Linked DNA regions of Homo sapiens: regions 1, 2 and 4 are each reported to be linked to region 3. The links are microRNA targets in miRTarBase. Many come from high-throughput screens and were not tested one by one. Region 3 holds a microRNA gene; each other region holds the end of a gene's coding sequence.
What was found. The annotated mature microRNA hsa-miR-324-5p reads CGCAUCCCCUAGGGCAUUGGUG and lies in region 3 at 912-933, opposite strand. An mRNA with a match to its seed (bases 2 to 7 or 8) in the 3' UTR can be bound and repressed. Matches are read on the target gene's strand: a 7mer-m8 pairs with bases 2 to 8, a 7mer-A1 pairs with bases 2 to 7 and ends in A, and an 8mer does both.

Region 1: miRTarBase lists POLE as a target of hsa-miR-324-5p. The part of its 3' UTR that is shown has no 7-base or 8-base seed match.
Region 2: the mRNA of HNRNPH2 is a reported target of hsa-miR-324-5p. Seed matches in the 3' UTR shown: 7mer-A1 at 795-801.
Region 4: the mRNA of FAM83H is a reported target of hsa-miR-324-5p. Seed matches in the 3' UTR shown: 7mer-m8 at 1,520-1,526.

Annotation. Positions count from the first base shown.
Region 1 is chr12:132,621,603-132,625,250 of GRCh38, reverse strand. POLE (DNA polymerase epsilon, catalytic subunit) reads left to right here. Exons shown (of 49, transcript NM_006231.4): 48 at 257-346; 49 at 441-1,489. The coding sequence ends at 554. It overlaps P2RX2 (purinergic receptor P2X 2), which reads right to left. Exons shown (of 11, transcript NM_170682.4): 11 at 2,863-3,632. The coding sequence ends at 3,279. Among named protein-coding and RNA genes, the nearest start is that of P2RX2, 4.7 kb to the right of the region's middle.
Region 2 is chrX:101,413,013-101,416,660 of GRCh38, forward strand. HNRNPH2 (heterogeneous nuclear ribonucleoprotein H2) reads left to right here. Exons shown (of 2, transcript NM_019597.5): 2 at 1-1,121. The coding sequence ends at 326. It overlaps RPL36A-HNRNPH2 (RPL36A-HNRNPH2 readthrough), which reads left to right. Exons shown (of 4, transcript NM_001199974.2): 4 at 1-1,121. Among named protein-coding and RNA genes, the nearest start is that of HNRNPH2, 6.6 kb to the left of the region's middle.
Region 3 is chr17:7,222,432-7,225,484 of GRCh38, forward strand. MIR324 (microRNA 324) reads right to left here and starts at 948; the gene lies at 866-948. ACADVL (acyl-CoA dehydrogenase very long chain) reads left to right here. Exons shown (of 20, transcript NM_000018.4): 10 at 236-434; 11 at 702-806; 12 at 1,213-1,299; 13 at 1,382-1,444; 14 at 1,537-1,638; 15 at 1,715-1,812; 16 at 1,890-1,962; 17 at 2,049-2,121; 18 at 2,211-2,283; 19 at 2,378-2,453; 20 at 2,526-2,835. The coding sequence ends at 2,666. It overlaps DVL2 (dishevelled segment polarity protein 2), which reads right to left. Exons shown (of 15, transcript NM_004422.3): 15 at 2,911-3,053. RefSeq lists an enhancer at 2,525-3,024.
Region 4 is chr8:143,722,632-143,726,279 of GRCh38, forward strand. It overlaps FAM83H (family with sequence similarity 83 member H), which reads right to left. Exons shown (of 5, transcript NM_198488.5): 5 at 1,302-3,648. The coding sequence ends at 3,290. Among named protein-coding and RNA genes, the nearest start is that of MAPK15, 8.1 kb to the left of the region's middle. RefSeq lists an enhancer at 492-993.

The DNA of each region.
Region 1 (3,648 bases), not on the chromosome of region 3:
TGAGCAGGGCCTGGAGGAGGCCTCAGGACTGGGCATCTGGGGTGGAACATCCACAGCGAGGGTGGGTGTAGGGAAGGCGCTGGCACCGTGGGATGAGGTCGTGCATTTTACTCATAACCGAGGGCTGGCTGCACACAGCAGGGGCTCGAGGCTTACTGATGGGCCCACGAATGTGTCTCGCGAGCCTGTGAAGAAGCAGCAGGCAGGTCTGGCCAGCGCGGGAGGGCTGGCGCCCATCGGGGCTGCTCCCTTTCAGGTCTGCCTGAAGTGCCGCGGGGTGAAGGAGACCAGCATGCCTGTGTACTGCAGCTGCGCGGGAGACTTCGCCCTCACCATCCACACCCAGGTGGGCTCTCCCTCATCTGCCTCGGCTCAGCCTGGCCTCCTTGGCCTCCTCTCTGAGTGGACTGGGGTCTCACTGTGCCTGTTTATTCCTGCAGGTCTTCATGGAACAGATCGGAATATTCCGGAACATTGCCCAGCACTACGGCATGTCGTACCTCCTGGAGACCCTGGAGTGGCTGCTGCAGAAGAACCCACAGCTGGGCCATTAGCCAGCCCCGGGCCCCGGGTGCCTCTGCGTCCGTGCCAGGCCTCCTGATGCCAAGGCCACATCCCCGTGCTTCCAGTGACCAGACCACTGACCACCCTGACTGTCCAAACCTGTGACCCCAGGCCAGGGAACGGGGAGGAAACCAAAGAAAACCATTTTCAGGGAGCTCAGACGTCACAGGAGGGAGCGGGAGCAGGATGTGGCCCTGGCCTCGCCAGAGCACCTGAAGAAGCAGGCCGTGAGCGAGGCTGCGAGTGCCCTGGGCGCCGTTTCTCACGCAGTGAATGCTTTTCCAGGCCTCTGTTGCTTCCTGCACCACACCTGGTGGGGTGGGAGCGTCCTCTAGGTGCCCCTAGTTCTTTGTCCTGCCTCCCAGAGGGAGGAAAAGCCCCTGGGGGCTTCTGGCTCCCTGAGATTGGGCTCTGAGACGAGACGGGTTCCCAAGGCCCTGGTGGGGCTGGAGTCTCACCTGTTTGCATGGAGAAATGGGCTGGCCCCACAGCCTCACAGGAGCAGTTTGTGGGCTGGTTTCCCCAGGAATCCAGACCCTAACCCGTGAGAATCTGGATTTTGGCTTGTGAGCCCTGCTTATTTGGAGCCGGGTCTAGAGGGAACCCTCTATCAGCCTCAGGAAAACAAGACCTCTGTGCACCTCACTTTTGGCTCACTGCAGCCCTTGTCCTTCACCTCCACACAGGACCAGCTGGAAGCAGAAAGAAGAAAGGCCAATTTCACAGGGCACCAAACAAGTATGAAATGTAAATCAGAAATGCAGACACCCCAGACGAGAGCCTCACAGGAGGGAGGGGGCCCCACAGGCTCCCCAGGAGGCTCGTGTCTTTGGCCCAGAGCCAGCCTTAGTTTGTCCCTGCCATCTACTGTCTGAGGCCATCGCTGCTACACTTTGTTTTTATTTGTATTTCATACTGAAGTTTCTCTAGGTTGTCACTGTGTATTTGTGCAGAGCGCCTCAGATCGGGGACTGGGTACCACTGGGCACGTGTTTGGCCCCTGGATGCTGCTGGGGCCGCCTGCCTGGAGAAACCTGATGCCTGCTCAGATGGAGGAGTGCTGAGGCCTCCAGAGTGGAGATCAAATCAAATTAGGGCAAGCAGGGGAGGAGGGAGGCTGGCTGACTAGGCTTCATTCCTGGAAGCGAATCTGGAGAACCCTCAGGAATGAGGAGTGATGGGGCCAGGGGACAGCCGCTCGTCCCCCAGGAAGGCCACCTAGCAGGACCAGGGGTCGCCCGGTGCAGCCGTGGGCGCCAGTCAGCCTGGGTTCACTGTGAGGCTAGCTGCGGGCATTTGAGTAGTGGTGGAGGGGTCAGAAACGGGAAGCTCTGGCCCTGGTTCCCAAGCAGCGGCTCAACCAGAAGAGCCAGTTTCTCCAAAAATGAGCTGGATATTTGTGAGCCACACAGCATGTGCAGGCCGTGGGGTGACCTGAGGCCGATGCCCGAGGCTGGGAGGCCACAGTCAAGGGAAATGGGGCCCACGGAAGACATGTTCTCGCCACCTGAACACAGCGCTGGGATGAGGACTCTGGAGTTGTGCTGAGACCTCCAAACTCAGGCTTTAGGGTCAGACCAGGGTCGTCTTACCCGCCCTTCTCCGCTCTTTGACCTTTGGGCGTGGTGTTGCTCTCCTGAGACTGGGTTTCCCTTCAGAGGCAGGATGTCATCTGTCACTGGCACAGGTGACATCATGACGCTGTTCTGGGCTCCTCCCCCCACCCAGTGGGCACCAGTCTAACCACTGCAGCATCTGAGGATGCAGTAACCAGATTACCCCCAGGCCCTGATGCAGTTAGTGCTGGCTCCCGGGCTGGTGTCCTTCCACCCCCGCCTGGCCTGACTTCCCATCTCGGCATTCCTGCCCCCTCCCATGGAGTAGGAATGAACACTGGTCTGAGCACTGCTGTAGTCTGAGCTTTCGTTTTCCTTGTGTGCAGCTGTCCCGGCCTCCCTCCTATTTCTCTCTTCCTGAGTCATGCTGTCCTCCCACATTTTGAGATGAGCCAGCTTTGGTTTGGAGTCTGGGGTGGCCCTGTCAGAAGCAAGTGCACTGAGGAGGTGGCCTGGGTCCCAGTGCACTCCCAGCCTGGGCAGACCTGACCGTGGCCTGGCTGGCTGTGGGGACCATGTGTCATGGGGCAGGCAGACATGTGCCCTGCACACCTCGCAGGCTGCTTAGAGGGGAGATGACCCAGACAGAGGTCACCGTGCAGCCCAGCTCCAGGCCGACAGGGCCTGACATCCCATATTGACAGGCTCACGATGCTCCTCCCCAAGGAACGAGGCCAGAAGGTTCTGCTCACAGGTTTATTGGACTGAGTATGTTGTGACTTCTAAGGGAAGAGTCTGGGCAGATTCAAGGTTACAACGCCTGTGGGGTGGGGTGGGGTGGGGTTCCCAGGGCCCAAGACCGGGAGCAGAGCCCCTCAGAGCTCAGCTGGCTTGGGTTCCAGGTGGCTGTGAGAGGTGATGGGAAGTGAGCAGCCCTGTAGGGACCAGCTGGGGAGGAGGTGTCAGGGGCTGTATGCCAGGGTGGGGCACAAGCCTGGGGCCAGAGCGTGCCCCCAGCCCTTGCACAGGGATCCTGTGGTGCCCCGTTTCGTGGAGATGCTCCGCTACTGAGGTGCCCACGTCCACGTGCAGGTCCCTAGCTGGGGACTCTCTGGCCCCACCAGGCCGGGTCTGCAGTCCAGTGAGATGGAAAGGAGCTCAGAGTTGAGCCAAACCTTTGGGGTCTGTGGGTGTGGAGGCTTGGGCAGGCTCGGAGGCAGGAGTGTCCACCATCTGCTCAGAAGGGGCAGAGATGGGGCAAGGCCGCAGGGGCGGGAAGGCTGGGCCACACTCTGCCCCTTGTTGGCCCTCCTGGCCTGATGGAGGGCTGGGGTGCTGGTCCTCGGAGCGGTGGCCGGGTTCGGGAGGGGCCTGGCCCAATACACGGGCAAGGGTCACAGGCCAGCTACCTGAGGGGTGGCTCGGCGTACACACCTTGTCAAATTTCTTATGGCTGTAGACCTTGTTTTTGTTCATGAATGTTAGCAAGATCCAGTCGCACAGGAAGGAGCCCTGGGGCCAGCAGAGA
Region 2 (3,648 bases), not on the chromosome of region 3:
TGGCAGCTATGGCAAAAGACAAAGCTAATATGCAACACAGATATGTGGAGCTCTTCTTAAATTCTACTGCAGGAACAAGTGGGGGTGCTTACGATCACAGCTATGTAGAACTTTTTTTGAATTCTACAGCAGGGGCAAGTGGTGGCGCTTATGGTAGCCAAATGATGGGAGGGATGGGCTTATCCAACCAGTCTAGTTATGGAGGTCCTGCTAGCCAGCAGCTGAGTGGTGGTTATGGAGGTGGTTATGGTGGTCAGAGCAGTATGAGTGGATATGACCAAGTTCTGCAGGAAAACTCCAGTGACTATCAGTCAAACCTTGCTTAGGTAGAGAAGGAGCACTAAATAGCTACTCCAGATATAAAAGCTGTACATTTGTGGGAGTTGAATAGAATGGGAGGGATGTTTAGTATATCCAGTATGATTGGTAAATGGGAAATATAATTGATTCTGATCACTCTTGGTCAGCTTCTCTTTCTTTATCTTTCTTTCTCCTTTTTTAAGAAAACGAGTTAAGTTTAACAGTTTTGCATTACAGGCTTGTGATTCATGCTTACTGTAAAGTGGAAGTTGAGATTATTTTAAAACTTCAAGCTCAGTAATTTTGAACACTGAAACATTCATCTAGGACATAATAACAAAGTTCAGTATTGACCATAACTGTTAAAACAATTTTTAGCTTTCCTCAAGTTAGTTATGTTGTAGGAGTGTACCTAAGCAGTAAGCGTATTTAGGTTAATGCAGTTTCACTTATGTTAAATGTTGCTCTTATACCACAAATACATTGAAAACTTCGGATGCATGTTGAGAAACATGCCTTTCTGTAAAACTCAAATATAGGAGCTGTGTCTACGATTCAAAGTGAAAACATTTGGCATGTTTGTTAATTCTAGCTTTTTGGTTTAATATCCTGTAAGGCACGTGAGTGTACACTTTTTTTTTTTTTAAGGATACGGGACAATTTTAAGATGTAATACCAATACTTTAGAAGTTTGGTCGTGTCGTTTGTATGAAAATCTGAGGCTTTGGTTTAAATCTTTCCTTGTATTGTGATTTCCATTTAGATGTATTGTACTAAGTGAAACTTGTTAAATAAATCTTCCTTTTAAAAACTGGAAAAAATCTTGAACTGATTGATTTTTATTATGTTCTGTCATATGGGCACACTGATTGACTTTACAATTCCCTCAAAGTTAAGATTTTTAATTTTAAAATTATAAATGATATTTAGCATCTTTATATGTTCATTGTTGCATATATCATTAATTATTTCTAAGATATATCCCTAGAAATGGGATTGCTGAGTCAAAGATATACTCATTTTTAAGGCTTCTGATTTGTGTTACCAGAAAGATTCTGGTACTTTATCTTTCTACTTGGAGTGTGTGTTTTATTTTCCCCCTTATACCCTCCTTATTGATGCACATTATTCTTTTTGAACTTTGCCAGTTTTTTAGTTGAGAAATGATATCTCATTGCTATTTTAATTTGTATTTTTTTGATTAATATTAAAGTTGTACATTCTTTTTTAAAAAAAACTTACCATGTCTACAGGACTATTGAGCTACTTTTGGAGACTGTACTTACCAAGATAGTATTCTCTAAAATCCAAAGAAGTGAAAGCAAATAAATAATCCTTTTTATTTCACCACAAACTAGAAGGCACGTTTGTATGTTTAAAAAGAAGTAGGCTTACAATTATGTGTTAAAAACAAAACATAAAAAAGAAGCAGGTTTATGTTATGGAAATAAATTGTCTCCTCCATGAATTCATTAGTAGATTCTCTATAAACACTCTCAGGTGTATTTTAGGGCATCTAAAGCTTATCTTAAACCAGCGGTTCTCAAACATTCATGTGCATCAGAATCATCTGCAGGGGTTGTTTAAACATTCATTTCTAGGCCCCATCCCTAGAGTTTCCAATTCAGTAGTTTTGGGATGTTGCTTGAGAATGTGCTGATGCTGCTGGTCTCAAGACCACGTTTTGAGACCCATCACAGTTCCCCAAACAGCAACTTTAAGGAGCAGCTTCCTTTATGATCCCTGATTGCCTCCCCTTTGTTCCCATAACAAGTAGTTTAAATTTTCTGTTAAAGTCCAAACCACATATTTACAATACCTCGCACCTCTTAATGAGGATTTTGAGCTGCTGTGGCATTGTGTGCTGATATCTTAGATTTCTGTCTGGATCACAGTGGTCATTAACAATTCCACCCCTCAATAACTTTAAGGCCCTGATGTCCCTCTTATCAGTACCAACTGTACCGTGAACTACAGATCTCTGTAGTTTCACTGACCCCTTGGGGACTGGATTGCTATACTTGGGCTGTTCAGGGCTTGGGGCCCAGAGAAATGAGATGGGAGGCAAATACCAAGTTGGTATTACCTGACTCCGTTTCATTCAGGAAATGAAAATCAATTCTAGAAAATCATTCAAGCTGAAGATGCAGTGAGACGTGATTGAGATTCTTTGATGACTTCTAATTTTTATCACAGCTTTCAGGAGAGCAAGAAATCCATTTTGACTCCTATCATGTTGAGCCAGTCCTTGCCCTTCAGGAAGCCTTTCTCAGAGGGTAAACAAGTAGGTGTTTTTGCCTTCCCAGGCTACTTAGTTAATTTTCCAGAAGTTTCTCTAAGTCTGAGCAAAGATTCTCAAGTTAGCCACTAGATGGCACCAAATCCCAGGAGACAATAGAGGGTTCTTTGTGATCTTAGATGTTCACTTACTCTTCTTCGCTGGCTAAGAAGACTCAGAAGGGCTCTGGGGAGCAAAGGAGAGAGAACCTGGAGAAGGTCAGCGGTCAGCACTAGAGGTGTGCAAAGGGACAGCAGTACAGCTGGTGTGCACACGCGTGCACACCCACCACCATTCGTGCTCCAACACTCACATCTAACACTACTACCCAGGAAAGTGATGGGAGGTCGAGTGGGCAGTCCACCCACAACACCCCCCAAACACTGAGTCAGAGGATTTATTTTCAACTGCGTGTGTGAGCTATTTGGCAGGATCAGGCAGAAAATTTGCAGCCACAGTTATCGTGGTCTAAGTATCCGATGGCTTGTGCCAGTGGTTCTCTGGGTGTGGTACCTGATCAGTAACAGCATGAACCTCCACCTTGTGAGATATGCAGATTCTTTTTGCCCCCCCGCCCCCCGCCTCGTCCCTTTCCCCCAAGGACTGAATCAGAAACTGGGTGTGGAGCCCAACAAGTTGTGTTTTGTTTTTTGTGTTTTTCTGAGACAGGGTCTCGCTCTTGCCCAGGCTGGAGTGCGGTGGTGCGATCTCAGCTCACTGCAGCCTTGAATTCCAGGCTCAAGTGATACTCCCACCTCAGCCTCTCGAGTAGCTGGGACTACAGGCGAGTGCCACCAAGCCCAGTTATTTTTTAAAATGATTTTTATAGAGACGGGATCTCACTATGTTGCCTAGGCTGGTCTCGAACTCCTAGGCTCAAGAGATCCTCCTGCCTTGGCCTCTCAAAGTGCTGGGATTACAGGTGTGAACCTCTGTCCAGCCAATAAGCTGTGTTTTAACAAGTGCTCAGGGTGGTTCTGCTGCAGGAAACTACTGGCTGATGGATACATGGATTCCATTATCCACCCATTCATTGATTCCTGCATTCACTCATCCAACCCTAAAGGAGG
Region 3 (3,053 bases):
GACTAATATGTATGCAACTGAGCTAAAGTTTTGGCTCCAGCAACCAAGTCCAACACAAAATAGGACATAGCCAGGCCTCCTTAGCCCTCAGGGCCTGAGGGGAAGTGGTGGCTGTAGCCTCTAATAGTCTAGTGGTCGTCATTCCTCCCTGGTGCATAAGGAGCGAAGGAGCAGTTTTTCCCCCAGTGACAACCTGTTGAACACACCTCTGCTTTCCCACACTGCCCTGACACAGTGGGCCCCCTGAGAAGAAGATGGGCATCAAGGCTTCAAACACAGCAGAGGTGTTCTTTGATGGAGTACGGGTGCCATCGGAGAACGTGCTGGGTGAGGTTGGGAGTGGCTTCAAGGTTGCCATGCACATCCTCAACAATGGAAGGTTTGGCATGGCTGCGGCCCTGGCAGGTACCATGAGAGGCATCATTGCTAAGGCGGTGAGTACCCTGCCCGAGTCCCTAGGTAACCCAAACAGAAGTCTCACTGTCCCCCTTGCCATGTGTCCCTGATCACTTGCAGGCACTCCCTACACTAGAAACTCCTCCCCTACCAGCAGCCCGACTTGCTAGCTTAGGTCTCCATCCAGCGTAGACTGAACTCTGGTTGTATGCAAAACCCATCCCTCTGGCGCAAGCCCAGCCCCTCTCCTAGGGAGACTGCAGAACCACACTGAACCACAGCGGGATGTGTGGACCCTCTTCCAGGTAGATCATGCCACTAATCGTACCCAGTTTGGGGAGAAAATTCACAACTTTGGGCTGATCCAGGAGAAGCTGGCACGGATGGTTATGCTGCAGTATGTAACTGAGGTGAGGGCCTCCCAAGCCCCTCTCCCTGGAGCCCTGGGGCTTTCTTCCCAGTCGGGTCAGACTACAACCCCCAGCAGCACCTGGGGCAGTGGGTCTCCAGCTTTACACCAATGCCCTAGGGGATGCGGGGAGGCATAGTCAGCTCAGCTTCTGCGAAGAGAGACAGCAATGATGTTCTGCTCAGGTGCCTGCCAGCAGTACCAGAAGTTAATTCTACCTCATCCCTTACATCCACCCCTTTTAAGAAAACAAATACCTGGAAGCACCTGATGAACTGACCCAGAACAAGTATCTGCCTGACCTGACAAGCTAGGTCAGCCCTTATCTTGGAGATCTGGGTGATGAGGCCAAGTCTGACAAAGCCCTTTGCAATTTTCCTTCCCATGTCCCAACTATGCAACCTCAGTCCATGGCTTACATGGTGAGTGCTAACATGGACCAGGGAGCCACGGACTTCCAGATAGAGGCCGCCATCAGCAAAATCTTTGGCTCGGTGAGGTCCCAGGCATGCTGGGAGGGAGTCCAGTTTGGGTGCTCAGCTCCCAAAACCAGTCTCATCTGTTCTTTGTCCCTAGGAGGCAGCCTGGAAGGTGACAGATGAATGCATCCAAATCATGGGGGGTATGGGCTTCATGAAGGTACAGGACGGTCTTCTGCAGAGCCTCGGCTGGGCCAGGGGTGGGTAGGCACATCTCAGCACGGGCATATAATTTGTGTGGCCCTGTGCTAGGAACCTGGAGTAGAGCGTGTGCTCCGAGATCTTCGCATCTTCCGGATCTTTGAGGGGACAAATGACATTCTTCGGCTGTTTGTGGCTCTGCAGGGCTGTATGGTAAGACAGAGAATTGGGTGGGGGTAGAGGTGGGGAGGACAGTGAGTCCTGACTGCTGGACCCTCTTCCCCCATAGGACAAAGGAAAGGAGCTCTCTGGGCTTGGCAGTGCTCTAAAGAATCCCTTTGGGAATGCTGGCCTCCTGCTAGGAGAGGCAGGCAAACAGCTGAGGCGGTAGGCTTAGGGCCAGAGCCAGGGGAGGGCAGGGTGGTGTATGGCAACTAACCAGTCATTCTCCCTCTTCCTCTCAGGCGGGCAGGGCTGGGCAGCGGCCTGAGTCTCAGCGGACTTGTCCACCCGGAGTTGAGTCGGAGTGGCGAGCTGGTAAGTGGCCAGGGGTCCAGGAGAGCCTGCATCAGGGACTGCAGCCGATGGCCCCTCTGAGCCCCGCACTGTCCCCATCTCTTAAGGCAGTACGGGCTCTGGAGCAGTTTGCCACTGTGGTGGAGGCCAAGCTGATAAAACACAAGAAGGGGATTGTCAGTAAGTGAGCTCTACACCATTCCGCCCCTCCCTTTCCTCTCCTTGAGACTAATGCCCCCACCCCCACCCCCACCCCACCTACCGGACAGATGAACAGTTTCTGCTGCAGCGGCTGGCAGACGGGGCCATCGACCTCTATGCCATGGTGGTGGTTCTCTCGAGGTGAGGAGGCAGGCAGGGAATGCCTGAGCCGCAGGGGGCCTGGGCCTGGATCCCAGCCGGCCCAGATTTATTTTCATCTCCTGCTTCCTGCCAGGGCCTCAAGATCCCTGAGTGAGGGCCACCCCACGGCCCAGCATGAGAAAATGCTCTGTGACACCTGGTGTATCGAGGTGAGACTCGGGGCTGCCAAGCTCAGGTGAGGGCTGGAGGTGCAGGCCCAACCCCTCCTTCCCTCTCCCCAGGCTGCAGCTCGGATCCGAGAGGGCATGGCCGCCCTGCAGTCTGACCCCTGGCAGCAAGAGCTCTACCGCAACTTCAAAAGCATCTCCAAGGCCTTGGTGGAGCGGGGTGGTGTGGTCACCAGCAACCCACTTGGCTTCTGAATACTCCCGGCCAGGGCCTGTCCCAGTTATGTGCCTTCCCTCAAGCCAAAGCCGAAGCCCCTTTCCTTAAGGCCCTGGTTTGTCCCGAAGGGGCCTAGTGTTCCCAGCACTGTGCCTGCTCTCAAGAGCACTTACTGCCTCGCAAATAATAAAAATTTCTAGCCAGTCATGCTTTGCTCCTGTGTGACGGTTCTTTCCCCCTGCTGCCTGCCTCCCTCCCAAAGAAAGGAGCCAGAGGCGTGGGGAGTTTGCCTCTATTGCTTTATTTGGTGTTTTATACAAGTGACTAAAATAAATAGAGTAACAAAGGCAGCTACATGGCCCAAATCTCCCAGCTTCCTCAGGCTGCTGTCTAGGATGCCTAACCCCGGGGTACCGCTGACCACC
Region 4 (3,648 bases), not on the chromosome of region 3:
CCAGCACTGGGCTTTTCCCTCCAGGTTTGCCTGGGGCAGCTTCTTGTTCTTTGTCCATCATTTCCTTACCTGCTGTGGCTTCAGGGTCCAGGCTGCCCCCCAGGGTGGTCCTGTGGGGTAGGGATGTAGGGTCACCCCCTGGCCATGTTTGTGACTCTGAGCCAGAGGAGAGAAGGGGAGAGAGAAGGGGGACACCCCTCCCCCTGCTGTCAGGGACTGCAGCCTGCGCCCCCTAGTATGGCCACTGCACCTGATCTGTCTTCAGGTCTCCGTAGGTGAGGGTGGGAGACAGACATCTCGCGAGGTCAGGGTTACCTCCTCTTGTCACCCCCAGGCAAGGTCCCTGGTGTGAGTTCAGGCCAGGGCTGTGCAGGGCTGCAAAGATCAAAGGGGCCCTGTGGGCACAGACCTGTGTCCTAGGGTGCCAGGTGTCCTCAGCTGCACCTGCCCATGGGTTGGGGTTGGAACACAAGGAGGCAGCTGGAAAGCTCACAGGCTGGAGGAGCTCACAGTCTAAAGGGCGCGGCCTGTGCTGTCGGTGGCGGAGTTGGGCTGCCAGGCTCACAGTCTGGGAAGCTCATAGGCCGGAGGAGCTCACAGTTTGAAGGGTGCGGCCTGTGCTGTGGTCGGTGTTGGGCTGCCAGGAGAGGGGCGCTGCTGGGTTGTGGAAGCCATTGCCACCATGGGGGAGGGCGGGGAAGGACAAGATGTGGGTGGGGGAGCTGAGCAGAAGGTGAGAGCTGGCGCTGCCCTGGTGCTGGACCAGGCACCTGCAAGAGACTCAGAAAGGGAGGCTGGGTTTGGGAGAAGGTTGGAGGAGGCGGAGGAGGGATCGGGAGGGCCCGAGGAAGCGGTGAGCCAGTCAGAGACCCAGCCCAGGGGCTGTTTCCTGAGGGGGCTGCCGAGGGAGGTGCTTGTTGAGCTTCAAAAGCCCAAGGCGCAGGCCCAGGGTGCTGAACAAGCAGGACAGAGAGGCTGTGGGAGAGGAAGCTGCAGAGAGGCCACGGGGCTGCAGGGTTGGAGGCTTGGCCTCAGGCTGGGCAGTGTGTGGTGGGGCTGCTGAGTGGGGAATCGCAGGTGGGCACCCAGGAGTGTGCCTGCACAGGGGGCATCGGGGACAGGGACAGGAGAGCAGCGTGAAGTTGGGGAGGCCAAGGTGGGCCTTGGAAGTGGAGCTGGGGGGTCTTTAGTGCCCCCCACAGGGGTGGGTGGTGGGTCCACAGGGGAAATCTGGGAGGCCACGTGGTTAAAGGCTGCAGGATGTAACTGGGCGATTATACACACTGGGGAACATGCTAGAATACTTTGTGTGTTGTGTTTTATTAACACCAAAATGTGCCACATCATGGTTTAGAAGAGGTGGAGGGTGCAGGCAGGAGGCTCCGAAGGCCCAGGCAGGGCCGCCAGCCTCTGGCCTCTCCATGGACTCCAGCTGGAGAGCCTGTCCGCTCAGCAACACCCCAGGCAGCACCAAGAATAACATGCCCACAAGAACATCATGGCCAAGAGACGCACAGGCGCATCCCGCTTCCAGGCACCTTTCCCACCTGGCCAGAAGTCCCTGCTGTCATCCCGACTTGCACGGTGGTTTTGGTAACCAGTGGGCTGTGCAGGAGTGAAAGTGGGGTCACTTTCCTTCCTTTCCCAGCTGCTGGAGTCGGAACTGCTGCCTTTGTTTGGCGGCCTTGTTTCTTAAATCAGTTCCCTCTTAGGATTTATTACACTAAAAAAAAAATTAGTTTTTGAAAAGAAATAGGAGAATACAGAAACATGAATTTCACGAGGCTATCATCTAACAGTGGGGGCTTTCTACACACGTGGTGCCAAAATGTGTCATTCTGAGTCAATTGCAATTCCTCTCTAGGAGTGAAAAGAGATAAAAGATAAGCCAAGAACCCTGGACAGATTCTTGGTGTTGGTGACAAAGAGGAAAGGACCTGAGAATGGGGCTGGTGGGGAGAGGGGGGTGTCTGCTGGATACCAGGAGGACAAGGACCACTCCCACCTGCAGGGGTGCCCAGGACCTAGTTGGGCTCGGCCTCAGCTGCACCTTGTCCCCTGCCCTCACCTGGCCCCATACCTGTCAAGGATAAGCACTCCACAACCAGCCCTTCTAGCGCCTGGCTTGGGCCGGGCCTGTGCAGGGGGTGCTCATGAGGCCGGGGCCACAGGTTGTCTGGACCATGTTTTACTGTGCTGCAAAGGCCAATGCCCCCTCCCCACTCTCACCCAGTGCTGGCCAGAGCCTCGCTGGAGGAGATGGCAGACCTGGCCAAGGCGCCCCTTCGGGCTTCCCTGTGTCCCGTCCCCAGAGGCCTGCCCTGTCCAGCTTCCTTGCCACTCCAAGGGGCATCTTCTGGTCCAGCTCCCCCCCCCCTGCCCCACCCACCCCTTGCAAACTGCCCGCAGCCAGCCCAGTCTTCCCCACAGCAAGAGACGGGCCTCCAAAAAAGATGCTGGGAGGCAGCGAGCAGGAGAATCCAAGTAGGAAAGGAAGTGAAGCCCAGGCGGGGGAGGGGGGAGACGGGGGGGGGGGGGGGGGAGGGAAGGAGGAGACCTTGAGAGAGGGAGGGAGCGGGGAGGGGGGAGGCCCTGAGAACAGGAGGCCCTGAGGAGGAGAAGGGCCCAGAGAATGAGGAATTGAGGCACAGAGGCGAGACCCTTGCAAGAGGATAGGGGACTTAGCGGGGTGCAAGGCTCACGCCTGTAATCCCCCCACTTTGGGAGGCTGAAGCGGGCTGATCATTTGAGGCCAGGAGTTGGAGACCAGCCTGGCCAACATAGTGAAACCCTGTCTCTACTAAAAATACAAAAACTACCTGGGCGTGGTAGCATACATCTGTAATCCCAGCTACTCAGGAGGCTGAGGCAGGAGAATCGCTGGAACCCGGGAGGCAGAGGTTGCAGTGAGCCCAGACCGCTCAACTGCACTCCAGCCCTAGGTCTCAAAAAAATAAAGGGGGCGGGGGGGACTGAGGCACAAAGAGATGGCGGAGCCAGACGCTGCGCCACGCAAGGCTGACGGTGCAGAGATGAAGGTGCTGAGGGGAGAAAGGCACTGGTGGCGAGGGGTGCAGCCCCAGCGTTGGGGAGGCCAGGGGGCAGAGACGGCAGCTGCCAGGTGAGCCTCCAGTGGAGCCGAGGTCTGGCGCACTCAGCCAAGCCCCAAGCGGCCGTGGCCTGACAGCCGCTGCTCAAGCAGATGAGCAGGGCTCTCTGTTCCGCGGGGCTTCTGGATGACCGGGGCAGCGATGCGGGCACCCTGGCCTGGGTTGCCAGGCCAGAAGACTCACTTCTTGCTTTTGAACGTGCCCAGGATCTTGGGCACGAACTTGCCCACCTTGCTGTCCCTGGTGCCCTCCTCCGCGGGGCCTTCCCCTGCCCCAGGGCTGCTGGCCTCCTCTTTCTTGCAGAAGACCTCGAAGCGGCTGTACACGCGCTTCTCCTTGCGCATGCTCTCCATGCGGCGCAGCAGCCGATCGCGCTCCTCCGCGCTGGCTGGCAGCGTGCGGCTCAGCCGGCCCTGGGTCCCCAAGCTGTCCGAGCGGAAGATGGCTGAACACTTGTCCTTGTCGGACATATCTGGGGCCAGGACGCCAGCAGCCGGTGGACGGCCTAGCTCGGGGCTGTTGTGGGTCGGGCCGGGGC